2 separate regions of the Homo sapiens genome follow, and region 1 is linked to region 2. The links come from fine-mapping of genetic effects on gene expression. A gene starts in region 2. The other region holds a variant in brackets. All regions are shown on one strand. Distances are between the middles of the regions.

Region 1 (8,000 bases), 110 kb after region 2:
CTTTATGTTGTAAAATGATAGCAGTGTCTAGATCTGGATACCTCTGATGGTCTCCTATTAAGAGGACCTTATTGTGACTGAGATAGTACGGTATCAACCACTTGAAGCTCATGTTGTGTTGTAGATAAAGGGTTTTCCTTTGTAGTTTGTAAATTGTTGAATTTCTTATGCCAGTGGCCAGTACTACTTAGTTTTGATTTAGCTCGGTGTTAGTTTTCTGAAAATTGAAGTTAATATTATATGGCTCAGGAAAACTTTTATTTAGAAATAATATTTTTGCGTAGGGTGAAGATTATTTTTCTCCATGTTTGCTAGAAACTTTAATATTTGAGAACAAGGGCTTTGTGAGAGACTCTGATGGAGGCAGTAATTATGATGTGAATTTCAGAGGTCCAAATGAGGCAAGCATTTGGAATGACATATTCATGGGAGATATCAGTTGAAAAGTAAGAAAATCCCTCCCCCCTTGTTATTCCTTGTTACAATTTATAACTAGTTGATCAGATAGAGAAAGATCCTAGAGCAAAGGTCCTCAGCCAATAGATCTCCAAGAAAACAATTACCATTGCCCTTCTTCCTCTTTGGTTTACTTAGATTTCTTCCCCACTATTTTCTGACCCCATATCAGCACTTTGGGGAAGTGAAAAGTCCTTATAAAATGATTGGAACAAGTTGCTCTAAAACAGGAAAGGGAAAGTTAATCAGAGACCAGGCTTAGGTATGTCTAGCATCTGGATTTGTCTATAGAATGACATAGGGATGTGTGTGTGGTAAGTGGGATGTGGTAGGTGAGGAGGTGCTAGAATGCAAAGAGTAAAGTGTTCTAGCTATGACACAGGAAAGTGGAATAATATTGCAATCATACTATGGCTGGGCTTAAAGCATTAAAAAATTTTTAAATTGCAGTAAAATATACATAACAAAGGCCTAAGCTGTTTTTAAAGAATGCATGGGTACTGTCTTGACTACTTTGCTGTGAAACCTTGCTATGCTTTGTGTTAGGTGCGGATTCAGCTGCCCTGAACGGTGTCAATGGATCGGGTTAAATCAGATGTCCTATCTGTGGGACAGCTTCAGGAAAAAAGAAAAATTAGTGAATACACCTGCTGTCTTATTAGTACCTGTTCCCTAGCACTAGCAATAGGGATAAAGAAAAGAAGTTTGGTGGGCAGTATGTCTTCATTTTGTTATAATTTGGGGTGTGCTTTGGTATTGATGCTGTGATTTCCTATCTTGGATGTTGGCTTTGGAAACTAAACAGTTAAAGCATCATGATTTGAGAGGAAACTAGCTCTCATTCATGAAGACAAAGTTTGGCACTAGGCTGCAATGATGGGGGGATAGTTAGGGTGGGGAGACTAACAGACTTTTTTGTACCACAAATGACTTTTAAAAATTAAGAGATAATTCCATGTCCTGAGGTTATAAACCGGCTACAACTGGTTTTTCTCTCCCTCCCTCCTGTCCCCGCTAGGCATCATGGGTAAAAGTAAGCATCCCCCTGTTTCTTTTGTTTAATATAACAGTACACCATGTGATTGGCAGGGCAGTGCCCGCTTGGAGACCGGGTTTGTGCAGGGCTCTCAAGGGGGCTGGCACGCATGGGGGCCACCTCTGTGCTACAGAAAGAGCTTCTCTTACGGTAGAAAAGAGACGATAGAACAGAGAAAGAAAGGGGACCCTCCACACACACACGACCCTCCACACACACACACACACACGAAAAAAACCTAAACCCATCTCATTATTTTCCTCCTTTTTCTGTTCTCTTTCTCTATTTCTTATCTCTCTCACTTTTCTGGAAGCTAGAGGAAGGAACGGAAAAATGTATACCTCTAAGTAGTTTTAACTGTCTTGCCCTCCCCAATCCTTATTTTTCTTTGCTAAAAGCAGAAACTCGAAATCTCTTCTGAGTTCTTTCTAGTAGTTTTTGGCTATGTGTAGAAGGTAATATGCTGAGGTTTCTAATGGGATTGAAGTAATAAACACTGTTGCTTTAAAAAAATTTGTTGCAGAATTATTGTTTCTCATACAAAGCTCCTTTCGGTTTGGATCTTCTTTCCCTCTGCTTCATCCATTTGCTATAATGGTAAGGGTCTCTGGCTTCTAGTTGTCTTCAAGCTGAAGCAATAAGGAGAGTGTTTTATTAAGGTTTTCTCTTTCTCCTTCCTCCCCTTTTTAAAATTTCTTTTGTCTGTAGCAGTGATGGTTCTAGCCTCCCCCTTACCCTCTCTACCCCTCCCCTTTTCCATGTCAGCTCCAACCCTGCTCTGTGAATGGAGTCAACCAGCTGACTGAGTGTTGGCATCATGCCAGGGGCTGCAAAGCAATGAGAATGTGCGCGCGCTCGTGTGTGTAAGTGTATACAGAACACAAAGGGAAAGGCCTGCAGTCTAGGAAATCACAGGCCATTATATAAGGAAGTCTGCGTCATCTCTGCTTGCTTGGGCTGATGGACAAGGAGAGGGAGGGGGGAGGCTTAGAGCAAGAAAAATACCCTTTTGACACATCCACACATACACTTTTTTCCTTGCTGTCTTAGAAAGAAAAAGGTATTTGTGTTGTGGCAAAACGAGAGAGCTTCTGTGTGCAAGTGTTATTGACCATGTTCCTAGTAGAAGTAGTAACTGTCCTGGATCTCCTTTTTTATTTTTTTATTTTTTTGAGACAGGGTCTCTGTCACCCAAGCTGGAGTGCAGTGATGTGATCACGGCTCACTGCAACCTTGACCTCCTGGGTTCAAGCTATCCTCCCAACTCAGCCTCTTGAGTAGCTGGGACTGCAGGCGTGTACCACCACACCTGGCTAATTTTTGTATTTTTTATTGAAATTTGGTCTTCCTGTGTTGTCCAGGCTGGTGGGTCTCTTCTTTCTGTTCCCATTCAAAGGTGTATGTGCTTGAGAAAAGAATGATTAAAAGAGAAATGCCTCCTGGATTTTACAGCTGTAGTTTGTTAAGATACTTAGGGGTGAGGAGCAAGGAGGCAGGGGACAGGCCACATTGTGTGGCTTTTTTGTTTTTTGTTTTTGTTTTTGTTTTTGACAGTCTCACTTGGTAGCCCAGGCTGGAGTGCAGTGGTGTGATCTTTGCTCATTGCAACCCCTGCCTCCCAGGTTCAAGTGATTTTTGTGCCTCTGCCTCCCGAGAAGCTGAGATTACAGGTGCCCACCACCACACCCGGCTAATTTTTGTAATTTTTTTTTAGTAGAGACAGGGTTTCACCATGTTGGTCAGGC[T/C]GGTCTCGATCTCCTGACCTCAAGTCATCCACCTGCCTCGGCCCCCACGGTGCTGGAATTACAGGCGTGAGCCACTGCGCTTGGCCGACTGTTTCTAATCATTCAGAATTGCCAAGGGTACAGGGGTGGGTGGGGGAGAGGGGTTGTTCTTAAGGAGAAGCAAAAAGCCAGATAATAGAGCAAGTAATATCTATTAACTACTCATTCGAGACTCCCCCTTCTTTTTTATTTCTTCTTTTCTGTTTAGTATGATATTATCAAAATGCGGTATTCTTTCCCTGCCATCTGCCAGAGTTAGAATTGTACAAAAGGACAGTCAAACAGCACATGGAAGGAAGGAAAAATTAGAGATTGTTCTAAGTGTCCATGCATTGCAAGTGTTACAATTTTGGGGTTCAGTTGTAGTGATTGTGTCTTTCATTGGCAATTAGGGGATCAGCATTCATTTAGAAATTATAATTCTGCTCAGTTTAGTATGATGTCTTTTTTTTTTTTTTTTTTTTTGTAGACAGTGTCTCGCTCTGTTGCCAGGCTGGAGTGCAGTGGCGCATTGTTGGCTCGCTGCAACCTCCGACTCCTGGGTTCAAGCGATTCTCCTGCCTCAGCCTCCTGAGTAGTTGGGACTACAGGCCTGCGCCACCATGCCCAGCTAATTTTTGTATTTTTAGTAGAGACGGGGTTTTTACCATGTTGGCCAGGATGGTCTCGATCTCTTGACCTCATAATCCGCCCGTCTTGACTTCCCATAGTTCTGGGATTACAGGCGTGAGCCACTGCACCCGGCCTGATGTCTTTTCTTAAATTCTCTTTATGTGCCTCCTAGGTGTGATATTTATGAAGCAGCTTTTGTGTTAGGTGAAAATGAGAAAGTATATTAAAGAATAAAGTATGGGGCCGAGAGCGGTGGCTCATGCCTGTAATCCCAGCACTTTGGGAGGCCGAGGTGGGTGGATCACATGAGGTCAGGAGTTTGAGATCAGCCTGGCCAACAAGGTGAAACCCTATCTCTACTAAAAATAAAAAAATTGGCCAGGTGTGGTGGCTCATGCCTGTAATCCCAGCACTTTGGGAGGCTGAGGCGGGCGGATCACGAGGTCAGGAGATAAGAGACGATCCTGGCTAAGACAGTGAAACCCTGTCTTTACTGAAAATACAAAAAATTAGCCGGGCGTGGTGGCTTGCGCCTGTAGTCCCAGCTACTCGGGAGGCTGAGGCAGGAGAATCGCTTGAACCCGGGAGGCGGAGGTTGCAGTGAGCCAAGATCGTACCACTGCACTTTCAGCCTGGGCGACAGAGCAAGACTGTCTCAAGAAAAAAAAAAATTAGCCAGGCATGGTGGTGGGCACCTGTAATCCCAACTACTCGGGAGCCTGAGGCAGAAGAATTTCTTGAACCTGGGAGGTGGAGGTTGCAGTGAGCCTAGATTGCACCACTGCACTCCAGCCTGGGCGACACAGCAATACTCTGTCTCAAAAAAAAAAAAAAAAAAAAAGGAATAAAGTATGGGTCACACTGTTACAGTTGGTTTTATGTGAGTTTATTTTTGCTTCTGACCATTCAGAATAACAGCACTGATGGGGAGAGTTGGGAATGAGAGGGAACTTTCAAACTCGTTAATCCTGTAGTAAGAGTTTTTATCAGGTTGCAGTCTAGAGGAAATTCCTTAATTTGATTGGGAACTTGTATATTTTTGTTAAAGCCTGTAAATTTCTCTTCTTGCCACATCTTTACAAGCAATAGTCTTTGAACGTCTGTATTTTTTGGTGTTAATATCTGTGCTTTTTTTCCTTTTGTTAGGAAGTGAATATGAGGTTATTACTTTCTTTAAGGATTGTAGGATGAGCTGGTCACAGTGGCTCACAGCCGTAATCCCAGCACCTTGGGAGACCATCGCAGAATTGCTTGAGCTCAGGAGTTTGAGACCAGCCTGGGCAACATAGGGAGATTCCATCTTTACAAAAAATTAGTCGTGGCATGTGCCTGTGGTCCTAGCTACTCGGGAGGCTGGGGTGGGAGGCTGCAGTGAGCCATGATTGCACCACTGCACTCTAGCCTGGAAAACAAAGTGAGACCCTGTCTCAAAAAAAAAAGAAAAAAAAAAAAAGATTGCAGGATGGGACCTACCACAATGGTTGTTCTGCTTATTCCCCAGGCTGCCTGCAATTATTTCCCCACCCCAAGGAGCTGGAGCCTACTTTTCTAAGTCCCTTTATAAGTAAACTAAGGAGTATTATTTCCTAGTCTGTTGAGTACTGAAAGACAAAATAGCAACAGACCAAACTTGCTACAACCTAGAGGCTAGGTAAAGATTCATTCATTGTTGTTGTGGGATTACCTAGTTCTTAGAAGTAATAATTACCCTTTTTTTTTTTTTTTTTTAAGTTTTTTTGAGATGGAGTCTCACTCTGTTGCCCAGGCTGGAGTGCAGTGGCATGATCTCAGCTCACTGCAGCCTCTGCCTCCTGGATTCAAGTGATCCTCCCACCTCAGCCTCCCAGGTAGCTGGGATTATAAGCATGTGCCACCACACCCGGCTAATTTTCGTATTTTTAGTAGAGACGAGGTTTCACCATGTTGGTCAGGCTGGTCTGGAACTCTTGAGCTCAAGCAGTTGCCCCACCTCAGCCTCCCAAAGTGCTGGGATTACAGGCATGAGCCACCATGTCCAGCTATATCCTTTATTTTTACCTTTTCTCTTGATGTTAGGAGCCAGATTAGTGAGGATAATCTTAGTGATTATGTAGTCATAATCAGCAAGGCATAAACCAGTACCTTCTCTTAAAGGATAGATGAGAAATTTTTTTTTTTTTCTTAACTCTCATAGGCCTTAATTGCTGTTTTGGAGTGGCTGAAGAGTAATTTTGAAGTGTATGTGAAATCTGCCCTTTGGCCACGTCTGTCCCTTTAATTCTATTTATTTATTAGAGACAGGGTCTCACTCTGTTGCCCAGGCTGGAGTGCAGTAGTGTGATCATAGCACACTGCAGCCTTGAACTCCTGGGCTCAAGTGATCCTTTTGCCCCAGCCTCCCAAGTAGCTAGGACTGACTATAGGCATGTCACCATGCCTGGCTAATTTCATTATTATTATTTTTGGTAGAGACAGAGGCTCACTGTTTTTCCCAGGCTGGTCTCAAACTCCTGGCCTTAAGCAGTCCTTCTGCCTTAGCCCCCCAAAGTGCTGGGATTATAGGCATGGGCCAATGCAAAGAACCTTTCACTCTAATACTGCCTGTTCTTCTTTTCTTTTTTGAGGCGGAGTCTCGCCTTTCACCCAGGCTGGAGTGAAGTGGCACGATCTTGGCTCACTGTAACCTCCACCCGCCGCCCTCCCCTCACCAGGTTCGAGTGATTCTCCTGCCTCAGCCTCCCGAGTAGCTGAAATTACAGGCGCCTGCCACCATGCCCAGCTAATTTTTGTATTTTTAGTAGAGACGGGGTTTCACCATGTTGGCCAGGCTGGTCTCAAACTCCTGTCCTCAGGTGATCTGCCCGCCTTGGCCTCCCAAAGTATTGGGATTATAGGCATGAGCCACCGCCCTGACCTCTCATATCACCTTTTCTAAATGATTGTCTGGCACATTTGCTTTCGTGTATGTCAGAACTTCTGTGCTGATTTGTAAGGTGACAGTAGGAGAAAGCTGTTTACCTCCTGTTCATTACCTCTAGGCAGCACACTCTAACTTGTCACATTTAAGCATAGCGACCTTTACAATCCTTGGTGCATATTACTGAGCAGTATGTTACCCACTGCAAGGTCATCTAGGCTCTTTCTTTCAAGAATGTGAGCCAAAGGTTTGTGTAGTAAACTCAGTGATACAGAAAAGACACTGTAAGAGCATGTAAACAGTAATAGTCTTTCATAAGAATTACTCTCTTACCAGTCTGGTTGGATCGGAAACCAAAAATGACAATATAGATAGCATAGTACGATGGTTAAGGACATTGACTCAGGTAAGACAGTCCTGTGTTTTAACCACGCCCAGCCATTTAAGGACTGTGAAATCTTTTTTTTTTTTTTTTTTTTTTTTTTTTTTTTTGAGACGAAGTCTCACTGTGTTGCCCAGGCTGGAGTGTAGTGGCGCGATCTCAGCTCACTGCAGTCTCCGCCTCCCGGGTTCAAGCGATTCTCCTGCCTCAGCCTACTGAGTAGCTGGGACTACAGGCATGCGCCACCACACCCAGCTAATTTTTGTATTTTTTAGTAGAGGCGGGGTTTCACCATATTGGCCACGCTGATCTGGAACTCCTGACCTCATGATCCGCCTGCTTTGGCCTCTCAAAGTGCTGGGATTACAGGCATGAGCCACTGTGCCTGGCCTGGACTGTGAAATCGTATGAAGTTACTCAGTTTATCTGTTTTTCTTTTCTCTCTAACAGGAGGATAATTATATCTCCAGAGGTTCTAAATGAGATAATGCATTGTGAAGCACTTTAGCGCAATGCCTAGCACATAGTAAGAGCTCAGTGAATGTTAGCAAGATAGATATTCCTGTCTGTTGGGTTTGTTTATACTATTTTCATTGTTCTTACTAGTTTATTTTAGCCAGCTTGTGGCTACCTTTTTTTTTTTTTTTTTTTTTTCCCTCCAAACTCGTGGTAGGTCTATTGACCTGTATCAAGATCAGGAGTCAGCAAACTATAGCTGCTGCTTGTTTTGGTAAATGAAATTTTGTTGAAACACAGCCACACCCACTTGCTTACAAAAGCAGAGTTTAGTACTTGCCCCACAAAGTCTAAAATGTTATTATCTGGTCCTTTACA
Region 2 (11,489 bases):
AGGAATTGGGGCTCTGCACCAGGCGTTTCTTCTTGTGTTTCCTCTTCTCCTCTTCTGGAGAGGGATGAAGGAGATCCTTTGCGAGCTAAGAGGGACAGAAATGCAGAGATTTAGAAACCAACAGCGAAAATGGGATGGTCGAAAATAGCCCCCACTGTCACACACCGGGGAGAGCTCGCCCCTCGCCGCCCCTGGTGTCTGCGCAGCTGGGCCGCCATCTTATCTCCTCTCCGCTCCCGTCTATGCGGGTGGCCCGTGGGCCGCTGCGGTCCCTGGAGTTAATGTCCTAAGAAGTGCAGAGGGTAAATGAGGACCCTCTACGATCCGAAATCAGCGTGAGGGGAGAGTTCGGACAGAACAGCGAGATCTCCGCCGAAACCTGGACCAAAGCACTCACAGGCATGTTCTCGTGTGCGTAGGTCGTCACCGCCGGAAAGGAGCGAAAGCGGAAATCCTGCCCCTTATATAGAGCACACTACAGGAAATGACGCAAGGATCTTGTGCCACCATGTTTGGAACGTCTTACTTTGATCCGCCGCAGTGGGGAGACAAGGGAGCTGCCATTTTCGGAAGGTCTTTAACTGTTAGTTGTGACACATATGCGTCACCATGTTGAGAGGGTTACCTTGCTAATTTGAGGTCAGCGTTTGATCACTATCCAGGGATAAATGGACACTTTTAAAATTTTGTGCCATACCTTGACAGTTGGAGCCTAATAAATAGGAAAGGTTGAGGAAAACACCAGGGAGAAGGAGCCATATCCAGGACTTCCGTCCTATTTTTTAAATACCTATATTCTTAACTCTTTTTCTATTGGTTTAATTTAACAGTTTAGGCCGGGCGCAGTGGCTCATGCCTGTAATCCCAGCACTTAGGGAGGCCAAGGCGGGTGGATCACCTGAGGTCAGCAGTTCAAGACCAGCCTGGCCAACATAGTGAAACCCCGTCTCTACTAAAAATACGAAAATTAGCCAGGCGTGGTGGCGTGTGCCTGTAATCCCAGCTACTCTGGAGGCTGAGGCAGGAGAATCGCATGAACCTGGGAGGCGGAAGTACAGTGAGCCGAGATCCACTCCAGCCTGGGTGACAGAACAAGACTCTGTCTTAAATAAATAAATAAACAGGGGAGACATGGTTTGGTCAGTGAAAAGAAATAGGGAAGACTCAAGGAGATAATGAGAGGTGAGAGAATGGACAAAAAGAGATTGAATAGTTTAGCTTGAGAAGGGACAAGCATGGACACGGAAGGTGATGGGGATAAGTGAAAGATGCCTTCTTTTTTTTTATTTTTATTTTTATTTTTTTTTTAGACACAGTTTTGCTCTTGTTGCCCAGGCTGTAGTGTGATGGCGCCATCTCGGCTCACCACAACCTCCGCCTCCCGCGTTCAAGCGATTCTCCTGCCTCAGCCTCCCGAGTAGCTGGGATTACAGGCATGCGGCACCATGCCCGGCTAATTTTGTATTTTTAGTAGAGACGGGGTTTCACCATGTTGGCCAAGCTGGTATTGAACTCCCGACCTCACGTGATCCACCTGCCTCGGTCTCCCAAAGTGCTGAGAATACAGGCGTGAGACACCGCGTCCGGCCTTTAATTTTTTATAGGCAGCCAGAATAGGCTCGAGAGAGACTCCCTTGAATAATTTTTTCTTGCCCGGGCGCCGTGGCTCACGCCTGTAATCCCAGCACTTTGGGAGGCCGAGGCGGGTGGATCACGAGGTTAGGAGATCGAGACCATCCTGGCTAGCACGGTGAAACCCCGCCTCTACTAAAAATACAAAAAATTAGCCGGGCGCGGTGGCGGGCGCCTGTAGTCCCAGCTACTCGGGAGGCTGAGACAGGAGAATGGCGTGAACCCGGGAGGCGGAGCTTGCAGTGAGCGGAGATCGCGCCGCTGCACTGCAGCCTGGGCGACAGAGCGAGACTCCGTCTCAAATAATAATAATAATAATAATAATAATTTTTTCTTTGCCGGTCGCGGTGGCTCAGGCCTGTAATCCCAGCACTTTGGGAGGCTGAGGCGGGCGGATCACGTGACGTCGGGAGTTCGAGACCAGCGTGGCCAACATGGTGAAACCCCGTCTCGACTAAAAAAAAAAAAAAAAAAAAAAAATTTAGCTGGGCGTCGTGGCAGGCGCCTGTAATCCCAGCTACTCGGGAAGCTGAGGCTGGAGAATCGCTTGAACCCAAGAGGCGGAGGTTGCAGTGACCAGAGATTGAGCCATTGCACTTCTGCCTGGGTGACGAGCAAAACTTTGTCTCAAAAAATAAAATAAAAGTAAAAACAAAGGTTGGGCGCAGTGGCTCACGCCTGTAATCCCAGGCCTTTGGGAGGCAGAGGTGGGTGGATCACCTGAGGTCGGGAGTTCGAGAGCAGCCTGACCAACATGGAGAAAGCTCGTCTCTACTAAAAATACAAAATTAGCAGGGGGTAGTGCGGGTGTCTGTAATTTCAGCTACTCGCGAGGCTGAGGCAGGAGAATCGCTTGAACCAGGGAGGCGGAAGCTGCGGTTAGCCCAGATCACACCATTGCACCCCAGCCTACGCAACAAGAGCGAAACTCCACCTCAAAATAAACAATAAAAATTAAAAAAATAAAAATAAAAATAGGCCGGGCGCGGTGGCTTACGCCTGTAAACCCAGCACTTTGGGAGGCCAAGGCGGGCAGATCACGAGGTCAGGAGATCAAAACCATCCTGGCTAACACGGTGAAACCCCGTCTCTCCCTAAAATACAAAAAATTAGCCGGGTGGTGGCGGGCGCCTGTAGTCCCAGCTACTCAGGAGGCTGAGGCGGGAGAATGGCGTGAACCCAGGAGGCGGAGCTTGCAGTGAACCGAGATCGCGCCACTGCACCCCAGCCTAGGTCGACAGAGCAAGACTCCGTCTCAAAAAAAAAAAAAAAATAGGGCCAGGCGTGGTGGCTCACGACTGTAATCCCAGCACTTTGGGAGGCCGAGGCGGGCGGATCAGAAGGTCAAGAGATCGAGACCATCTGGCCAACATGGTGAAACCCCATCTCTACTAAAAATACAAAAATTAGCTGGGCGTGGTGTCGGGCACCTGTAATCCCAGAGGATTACAGGTACTCCAGAGGCTGAGGCACAAGAATCGCTTGAATTCGGGAGGCGGAGGTTGCAGTGAGCCGAGATTGCGCCACTGCACTCCAGCCTGGCGACAGAGCAAGACTCTGTCTCAAAAAAATTAATTAATTAATTAAAAAATAAATAAAAAATTTTTTTGAAACAGGATCTTACTCTATCACCGAGGCTGGAGAGCAGTGGCATCATAATCGTGGCTCACTACAGCCTTGGACTCTTGGGCTCAAGTGTTCTGCCCACTTCTGTCCCCCAAGTAGCTGCGGCTGGGACTACAGGCCACACCACCATGTATGGCTAATTTTTTTTTTTTTTTTTTTTTTTTTTTGTCGAAGCAGTCTCACTATGTTGCCCAAGCTGGTCTTGAACTCCTGGGCTTAAGGGATCCTCTCACGTTGGCCTCCCAAAGTGCTGGGATTACAAGTGTGAGCCACCGCAACAGGTCTTAGATAATATTTTCTTTCTTTCGTGTTTCGTATTTTTTTCCACCCCCAGCACACATATAGCAAGAATAATTTTTTTCTAAAGGCAGAGATAAACTTGTTTCTCTTTTACTCTCTTTCTTTCTTTCTTTTTTTTTTTTTTTTGAGACGGAGTCTGGCTCTGTCGCCCAAGCTGGAGTGCAGTGGCGCAATCTCGGCTCACTGCAAGCTCTGCCTCCCGGGTTCACGCCATTCTCCTGCCTCAGCCTCCCAAGTGGCTAGGACTACAGTCGCCTGCCACCACGCCCGGCTAATTTTGTGTGTGTGTGTGTATTTTTAGTAGAGATGGGGTTTCACCATGTTAGCCAGGATGGTCTCGATCTCCTGACCTCGTGATCCGCCCGCCTCGGCCTCCCAAAGTGCTGGGATTACAGGCGTGAGCCACCGCGCCCGGCAAACTTGTTTCTTTATACCCGTGCTGTTCATATTTCAGCTTCCTGGTTACCAAGGCTACACATTCATGGCCTATTGAGTGAGATTTCAGGAGTACTGCACCTTAAGTGGGCCATATTAAAAGATTCACGTAAAGAATGACATTTTTAGTTCAAATCTCTGTTTTCCTAAGCTATTTGGTCAGAGAAATCACACATGGGTCCCCATAAGAGAGATCGTTCCAACTGAAGCCCCAGGATGTGTCTAGGTAGGCTGTGTGTGTTGGGGTGGTGGGGCCGATTCTGTATAACTAATTTACGTTTTCACCCTGTTCCACCAGGGGGCAGACTGACTCAACAAATAACCTACTTCTGCGCATCCCGCTTTTTTCAAAGTGAATTGGGACCCATAGAACTAAGGGCTTGGACAACTAACAGTAAAATTCTAGGACTGCCTTTTACTCAGCCCCAGAAACCGATGATAACTCATCTTCTAGCTTCGTTGAATAGCATCTCCAAAACTCAGCCCCATTTTTTTTTTTCAATTTCTAGTGCTCTCCCTACCTTCACCCTTATTCCCAAAACTCTTGGTTCTCTTCCCCTAATCCCTCTAAAATTTCTCTTCTAAAATTTCTGGTCGTCGTGGTTAAACCTCTACTTCCCTTCACCCCAGCCTCTCTGGCCTCAGAATGGAAGAGTAAGGTCCTAAGAGGGGAGCTACAATTACCGAAAGGCTGTGGAAAATAGCGAGAGAGACAGGCCGGCCTAAGCTAGGAAGGGAAAACCGAGAGAACAGAGGCCGGGCTGGCAGCCTTGGCCTGCTCAAAAGGGTGGGCGGGCAGGGGGTGGAGCCCGGAGGGGTGCCGCCTCTCCTCTTTCCCGGAGCCTGGGCGGAGAGGGAGGAAAACTTCTTCCTGGCCTGGGCTCCGTGCCGCTCTGTTTGCCAACCGTCCAGTCCCGCCTACCAGTGCCGGGCGCTCCCCACCCCTCCCCCGGCTCCCCCGGTGTCCGCCATGGCCAAAGCCTACGACCACCTCTTCAAGTTGCTGCTGATCGGGGACTCGGGGGTGGGCAAGACTTGTCTGATCATTCGCTTTGCAGAGGACAACTTCAACAACACTTACATCTCCACCATCGGTGAGCCCGCTGGCCATGTCCCAGACCCCGACTCTCCTGTGACCTCCTTCTCCGGCTCCCGGATTACTAGTGACCCCACTTTTCAGTCCCCTTAGAGTAAGGCTCCTAAATTCTAGTCCCTCAACCCCTGGCTCTGACCCTTCCCCCGTGCATGTCTCTGTATAGTAACCAAACCTCTCACCTCTCTGAGGCCTTCAGGTAACTCTTCAACTGCTGCCAGCTCCTCATTTTCTTGGTACCATCGCCTTAGTCTCCCCAAATCCACAAGAACTCTTCTCTATTTTTCTCTGTTCCCCTCTTCCCCTACCCCCACCACCTAGAACTCTCTCGATCCTATCTCCATGTTTCCTGTATCCCTGTCCGCCACATCTTTTTCTCCCGATCCGATGCTAGCCTCTTTCTGTCTTGCTGAGCTTCAAACTCTCCCACTGTGTCCCCACCTCACCATCTACTTCCCAGGTTCCCTGCCCCAGTCTCCCTGCACCTCAGCTGAACAAGGGTTTGGGAAGGGTGGAACAAGGTGGCTGGGTGTGCTGGAGGGTGGCCCAAGGACTGTGATCATGAATATGCAGCCAGCTTGGTGAGGAACGTGGAAATGAGGGGACTTTTGGGGTCTCTGAGTCAGCCTGGTGACTCATCCTCCTCCCAGGGGCCCCCAGCAGGCTTGGGGGAGGTGCCCAAGTTTCTACTAAGAAGAACATTGTCTCCCCTCCTCCCTTCTCTTCTTTCTTCATCTCCTCTGGCTTGGGAAATAGACAGGAAGAGTCTCACGACAATTCTGGTTACAAAGGAAAAGGAAAAATGCCCCTCTTTCCTAATTGTCTCAAAAGTAATCCTGTTTAGCCTCAGACTTTCCTAGTGCCAAGTTTGGCCCACTAGTTAATTCACATAGACTGGCTTCAGCTACTTTTTTCCTTACTCTCTACTAGGAGGGTAGGTGGGATACCAAGAGTAGAGGGCTCTAAGAAAACAGAGAAGAGGAATGTGAAAGTAATATCTGGGGGGAGACAGAGACTGAATTCAGAGAGTTGTCAGCTGGTATAACTGAATGGACCCAAGAGGCAGCCTAAGGATTTTAAGCCTCCATGCAGAATTTTCGTCACCTTTTCCCTCCCAAAATCCATAAAATGTACGTAAAAATAGTATTCTTGCTATACAAATACAGCTTTGGGAAAATTCTCCTAGCTTGGCATTTCCAACAAGATTGTTCCCCAAGTGCCTCCCCTGCAGAATTTCTGGTGCCAGCACTGCTCCGTTCCTGTCCCTTCCATCACACAGTTTTACATGTGTGCATGCATGTCTCAACTTCAGTGCATACCTTCCACCCCTAGGAATTGATTTCAAGATCCGCACTGTGGATATAGAGGGGAAGAAGATCAAACTACAAGTCTGGTAAGTCAGTCCTCTGGGATGCCTCGCCAGACTTCCCCATTTACCTCCTACACGTTTTTCCTTCTATTTTGTTTCATTTCTCTTCCTTTCCCCATTGCTCCTTCTAGAAGTGCTAGAAGGAGCACTTCTGGCATTTCTCCGGATGCACTCAGCTGTCCTTCCATCTCTCTTCCTGCTCTCCCAACTAGTTCCAACTCTTTTGTAACTCTTGCCTCCTCTGGCTGCAGAGCATCCTCTTAATTTGACAACAAACAACTGTTCAGTCATAACATGGAAACAGGCTGTGAGCAGTTAAATGGCAAAGGCAGAATTAAGACTTGACTCTAAGTCTAGTGTTTTCTCCAAAATATGGTGAGCCCAGAGAGCCAAATATAGACCCTGAAGGTGTTTAAGTGGTATGAAGCTTAGTGGAGGCATTATGCTATGACATATAAGAGCAGACTGGTGCGCAAATCTGGTTCTTTTAGTTATCTCCTGCCTGACCTTCATTAATTATTCAGCCTATCCAAATCTGTTTCCTCTTTTTTTTTTTTTTTTTTTTTTGAGACAGAGTTTTGCTCTTGTCACCCAGGCTGGAGTGCAATGGCACAATCTAGGCTCACTTTAACCTCCGCCTCCTGGGTTCAAGTGATTCTCCGACCTCAGCCTCCCAAGTAGCTGGGATTACAGGCGCCCGCCACTAGGCCGGGCTAATTTTTGTATTTTTAGTAGAGACGAGGTTTCACCATGTTGGCCAGGCTGGTCTTGAACTCCTGACCTCAGGTGATCCACCCGCCTCAGCCTCCCAAAGTGTTGGGATTATAGACGCAAGCCACGGCACCTGGCGTGTTTCCTCATTTTTAAAATAGAGACAATAATACATGTCTTACAAGGAAAGAGTAAGGATTAGATAAAATGATACATACACAGTGCTTGACACATAGCAAACATTCAATGAATAAGCAAAGACATCTTGTTTCTTGGGCCACTACCATCTCTGGAAATCAGCTCAACTGTCTTTAATCCCGTTCCCCTTTACTGTTTCCTTATTCTGTTGCCCCACCATGTTACAAAAGCTAAATTCTTGTGAGAGAGGAAGAATTATTCCGTTGGAGAATTCTTCCCTCTATTCCATCCCATGAAAACTTCTCCTTCTTTAGGGACACGGCTGGCCAAGAGCGGTTCAAGACAATAACTACTGCCTACTACCGTGGAGCCATGGTATGAAGTGTGGGTCTGAACAAAGGATGAAGGATGAGGCTACAGAATATATTATGAATACAAAGGGTCAGGGGTTGGGGCAGGTAAAAATGGGAGGGGTGCAGTGTGGGTTGCAGAGGGCCCAACATGGCCTAGTGTTTAGACCCATGGATGCGGGGTCACTTACAGGGCAGTGGGAAGCCTCAATGGGAACATGGTCCAAGGTGAATTTTGTCATCTCCCAGGGCATTATCCTAGTATACGACATCACGGATGAGAAATCTTTCGAGAATATTCAGAACTGGATGAAAAGCATCAAGGAGGTGAGGACCCTCCAAAAGAGATGGGGAAACTGGTTAGAACCTGGAGAATGAAGGGGTCCATCAGGATAGGCAAGACCTAACTTTTTTTTTTTTGAGATGAAGTTTTGCTCTTGTTGCCCGGGCTGGAGTGCAATGGCAGGATCTCGGCTCACTGCAACCTCTGCCTCCCAGGTTCAAACGATTTTCCTGCCTCAGCCTCCCAAGTAGCTGGGATTACAGGCATGCACCACCATGCTCGGCTAATTTTGCATTTTTAGTAGAGACGGGTTTTCTCCATGTTGGTCAGGCTGATCTTGAACTCCTGCATCAGGTGATCCACCCGCCTTGGCCTCCCAAAGTGCTGGGATTACAGGCGTGAGCCACCGCTCCCAGCCGGCAGGACCTAACTTTTACTTGTCTTTTGCCCCCAGAATGCCTCGGCTGGGGTGGAGCGCCTCTTGCTGGGGAACAAATGTGACATGGAGGCCAAGAGGAAGGTGCAGAAGGAGCAGGCCGATAAGGTGAGGGCCAGGCTGAGCAATGTTCTAGAACTGGGCTGGGAGGGCCAAGATAGGTTGCATTGCAGAGGACTTGGCTGCTGTCCTTAATTCAATTCTCTTCCCACTTCACCCCTTATAGTTGGCTCGAGAGCATGGAATCCGATTTTTCGAAACTAGTGCTAAATCCAGTATGAATGTGGATGAGGTGAGATCCACACCCCCATCCCCGACCAAGAGAGGAAGTATTAGAAGGTAGATTCTCCTCCCTCCAAACTGACTCTGTTCCCCACTTTAGGCTTTTAGTTCCCTGGCCCGGGACATCTTGCTCAAGTCAGGAGGCCGGAGATCAGTAAGTTGGTTTTGCTGGACTAGGTACAACTCTGGGGTGTGTGTGTGTGTATGTATGTGTGTGTGTGTGTGTGTGTGTGTGTGTGTGTTGGTGTTGATAAAAACGGGGAGCAATGCTAAGATTTCTCATGAGGGTGGATTTACTTTAAACAGTTTATACCCTCCTACCCTAACCATCCATTCACACCATGACACCTGTGCCCTTCTCCCTCTAGGGAAACGGCAACAAGCCTCCCAGTACTGACCTGAAAACTTGTGACAAGAAGAACACCAACAAGTGCTCCCTGGGCTGAGGACCCTTTCTTGCCTCCCCACCCCGGAAGCTGAACCTGAGGGAGACAACGGCAGAGGGAGTGAGCAGGGGAGAAATAGCAGAGGGGCTTGGAGGGTCACATAGGTAGATGGTAAAGAGAATGAGGAGAAAAAGGAGAAAAGGGAAAAGCAGAAAGGAAAAAAAGGAAGAGAGAGGAAGGGAGAAGGGAGAGGAATGAATTGAGGAAGTGAAAGAAGGCAAGGAGGTAGGAAGAGAGGGAGGAGGAAAGGAAGGAGAGATGCCTCAGGCTTCAGACCTTACCTGGGTTTTCAGGGCAAACATAAATGTAAATACACTGATTTATTCTGTTACTAGATCAGGTTTTAGGGTCCTGCAAAAGGCTAGCTCGGCACTACACTAGGGAATTTGCTCCTGTTCTGTCACTTGTCATGGTCTTTCTTGGTATTAAAGGCCACCATTTGCACAAATGTTCCTGTTTTGGGTAACTTGGATTATTGTCAGAATTGTTCTCCACTCAAATCCAATTATTGTGTCTTCAAAGTGATTGATTTACCCAAATCAGGCTCGGTTTCTGTGGAACCAGGACTAATCCTACTGCTGTCTCTTCCCTAGCTGTTCTGTTGGTAAGGAAAATAGCAAAGAGCAGGAGGTAGAGTGATCTGAAGGTCTGGATATCCTCTTTCCGCCATGGGGTCCGGATGCCCTTGTGGGCAGAGCCTTGTCCTGAGCACAGGAAATTCCCAGCGAGAAGAACTCTAACAGTCCTAGCCTCAGGGAAATAACTGCACCTAGTGATTTATCCAGTGATTTGTGCAAGCTTCTTTGATTCTGCCAGCAATCCATTTAGTTATTTGATAGGCATTAATATCTGCTTTTATTAGTGAGGAAAATGAGAAGTTCATTTATTCATATATGTATATTGAGCATCTACTAAGTGCCAGGCACAATGGTCAGTTATTTTATTTATTTATTCATTTATTTTTAGGGACAGAGTCTTGCTCTGTCTCCGAGGCTGGAGTGCAATAGTGCGATCTCAGCTCACTGCAACCTCTGCCTCCTGCCTCAGCCTCTCAAGTAGCTGGGATTACAGGCGTGAGCCACCATGCCTGGCCAATAGTCAGTTAATATAGCCCTTTGGTGGTACTTACAAGCAGAGGGACAAGGACTTTTTTTCTTTTTTAAGACCGAGTGTGGCTCTGTCGCCCAGACTGGAGTGCAGTGGCACGATCCCAGCTCACTGCAACCTCTGCCTCCCGGGTTCAAGCGATTCTCCTGCCTCAGCCTCCCGAGTAGCTGGGATTACAGGCACGTGCCACCACACCTGGCTAACTTTTGTGTTTTTAGTGGAGACAGGGTTTTGTCATGTTGGCCAGGCTGGTCTTGAACGCCTGGGCTCGAGTGATCAGTCTGCCTCAGTCTCCCAAAGTGCTGGGGTTACAGGCGTGAGCCACTGCGCCCAGCCTGGGACAAGCAAACTTTAACAAAAACAGCTCTTTGGCTGGGCGTGGTGGATCACAACAGGAGTTCAAGACCAGCCTGGCCAGCATAGTGAAACCCCGTCTCTACTAAAAATACAAAAAAAAAAAAAAATTAGACAGGAGTGGTGGAGGGCGCCTGTAGTCCCAGCTACTTGGGAGGCTGAGGCAGGAGACTCACTTGAACCTGGGAGGCAGAGGTTGCAGTGAGTTGAGATCACACCACTGCACTCCAGCCTGGGTGACACAGCCAGACTCTGTCTCAAAAAAACAAAAACGAAAACAAAAACATCTCTTTGCTGAATAACAAAGATGGCAAAACTACTGGAAATGCAAAAGAAAATTCAGGCTTGGGCCGAGCACGTTGTTTCATGCCTGTAGTCCCAGCACTTTGGGAGGCCGAGGTGGGTGGATCACTTCAGGTTGGGAGTTTGAGACCAGCCTGGCCAACATGGCGAAACCCCATCTCTACTAAAAATACAAAAAAAATTAGCTGGGCATGGTGGTGGGTGCCTGTAATACCAGCTACTTGGGAGGCTGAGGGAGGAGAATCGCTTGAACCTAGGAGGCAGAGGTTACTGTGAGCAGAGTTCGCACCATTACACTCCAGCCTGGAGACAGAGCGAAACTCCATCTCAAAAAAAAAAAAAAAATTCAGGCTTGATGCACAGCATCCTTAAGTATATATATATTATATTATATTATATATTACAATGTATAATTATATATATTATATATTAAATATATAGGAAATATATAATATATATAACATGTATATGTTTATAAACATATAACATATTATATATAATATATAATTATATATTATACATATATATTAAATATATATTATAATTATATATTTAATATATAATATATTATGTTTAATATATAATTATATATAATTATATTATGTTTAATATATAATATATAAT

The links. PIP is the estimated chance that this variant, and not a neighbour inherited with it, causes the effect.
Region 1: its variant is fine-mapped to the expression of RAB13 in whole blood (TOPMed, PIP above 0.99). The same link has a PIP of 0.9 or more in monocytes.

The regions. Positions count from the first base shown.
Region 1 is chr1:153,875,504-153,883,503 of GRCh38, reverse strand. The region is part of intron 1 of GATAD2B (GATA zinc finger domain containing 2B); the gene reads left to right. Among named protein-coding and RNA genes, the nearest start is that of GATAD2B, 43 kb to the left of the region's middle. RefSeq lists a silencer at 2,177-2,471. The variant T/C (reference allele first, on the strand shown) is at 3,238.
Region 2 is chr1:153,979,711-153,991,199 of GRCh38, reverse strand. It overlaps RAB13 (RAB13, member RAS oncogene family), which reads left to right and starts at 4,861. Exons shown (of 8, transcript NM_002870.5): 1 at 4,861-5,087; 2 at 6,419-6,479; 3 at 7,619-7,679; 4 at 7,904-7,981; 5 at 8,392-8,481; 6 at 8,600-8,665; 7 at 8,756-8,809; 8 at 9,024-9,550. The coding sequence starts at 4,964. The coding sequence ends at 9,101. It overlaps RPS27 (ribosomal protein S27), which reads right to left and starts at 438. Exons shown (of 4, transcript NM_001030.6): 1 at 398-438; 2 at 1-85. The coding sequence starts at 403. RefSeq lists enhancers at 1-500, 198-557, 1-713, 4,758-5,259, 5,573-5,802 and a silencer at 4,777-4,946.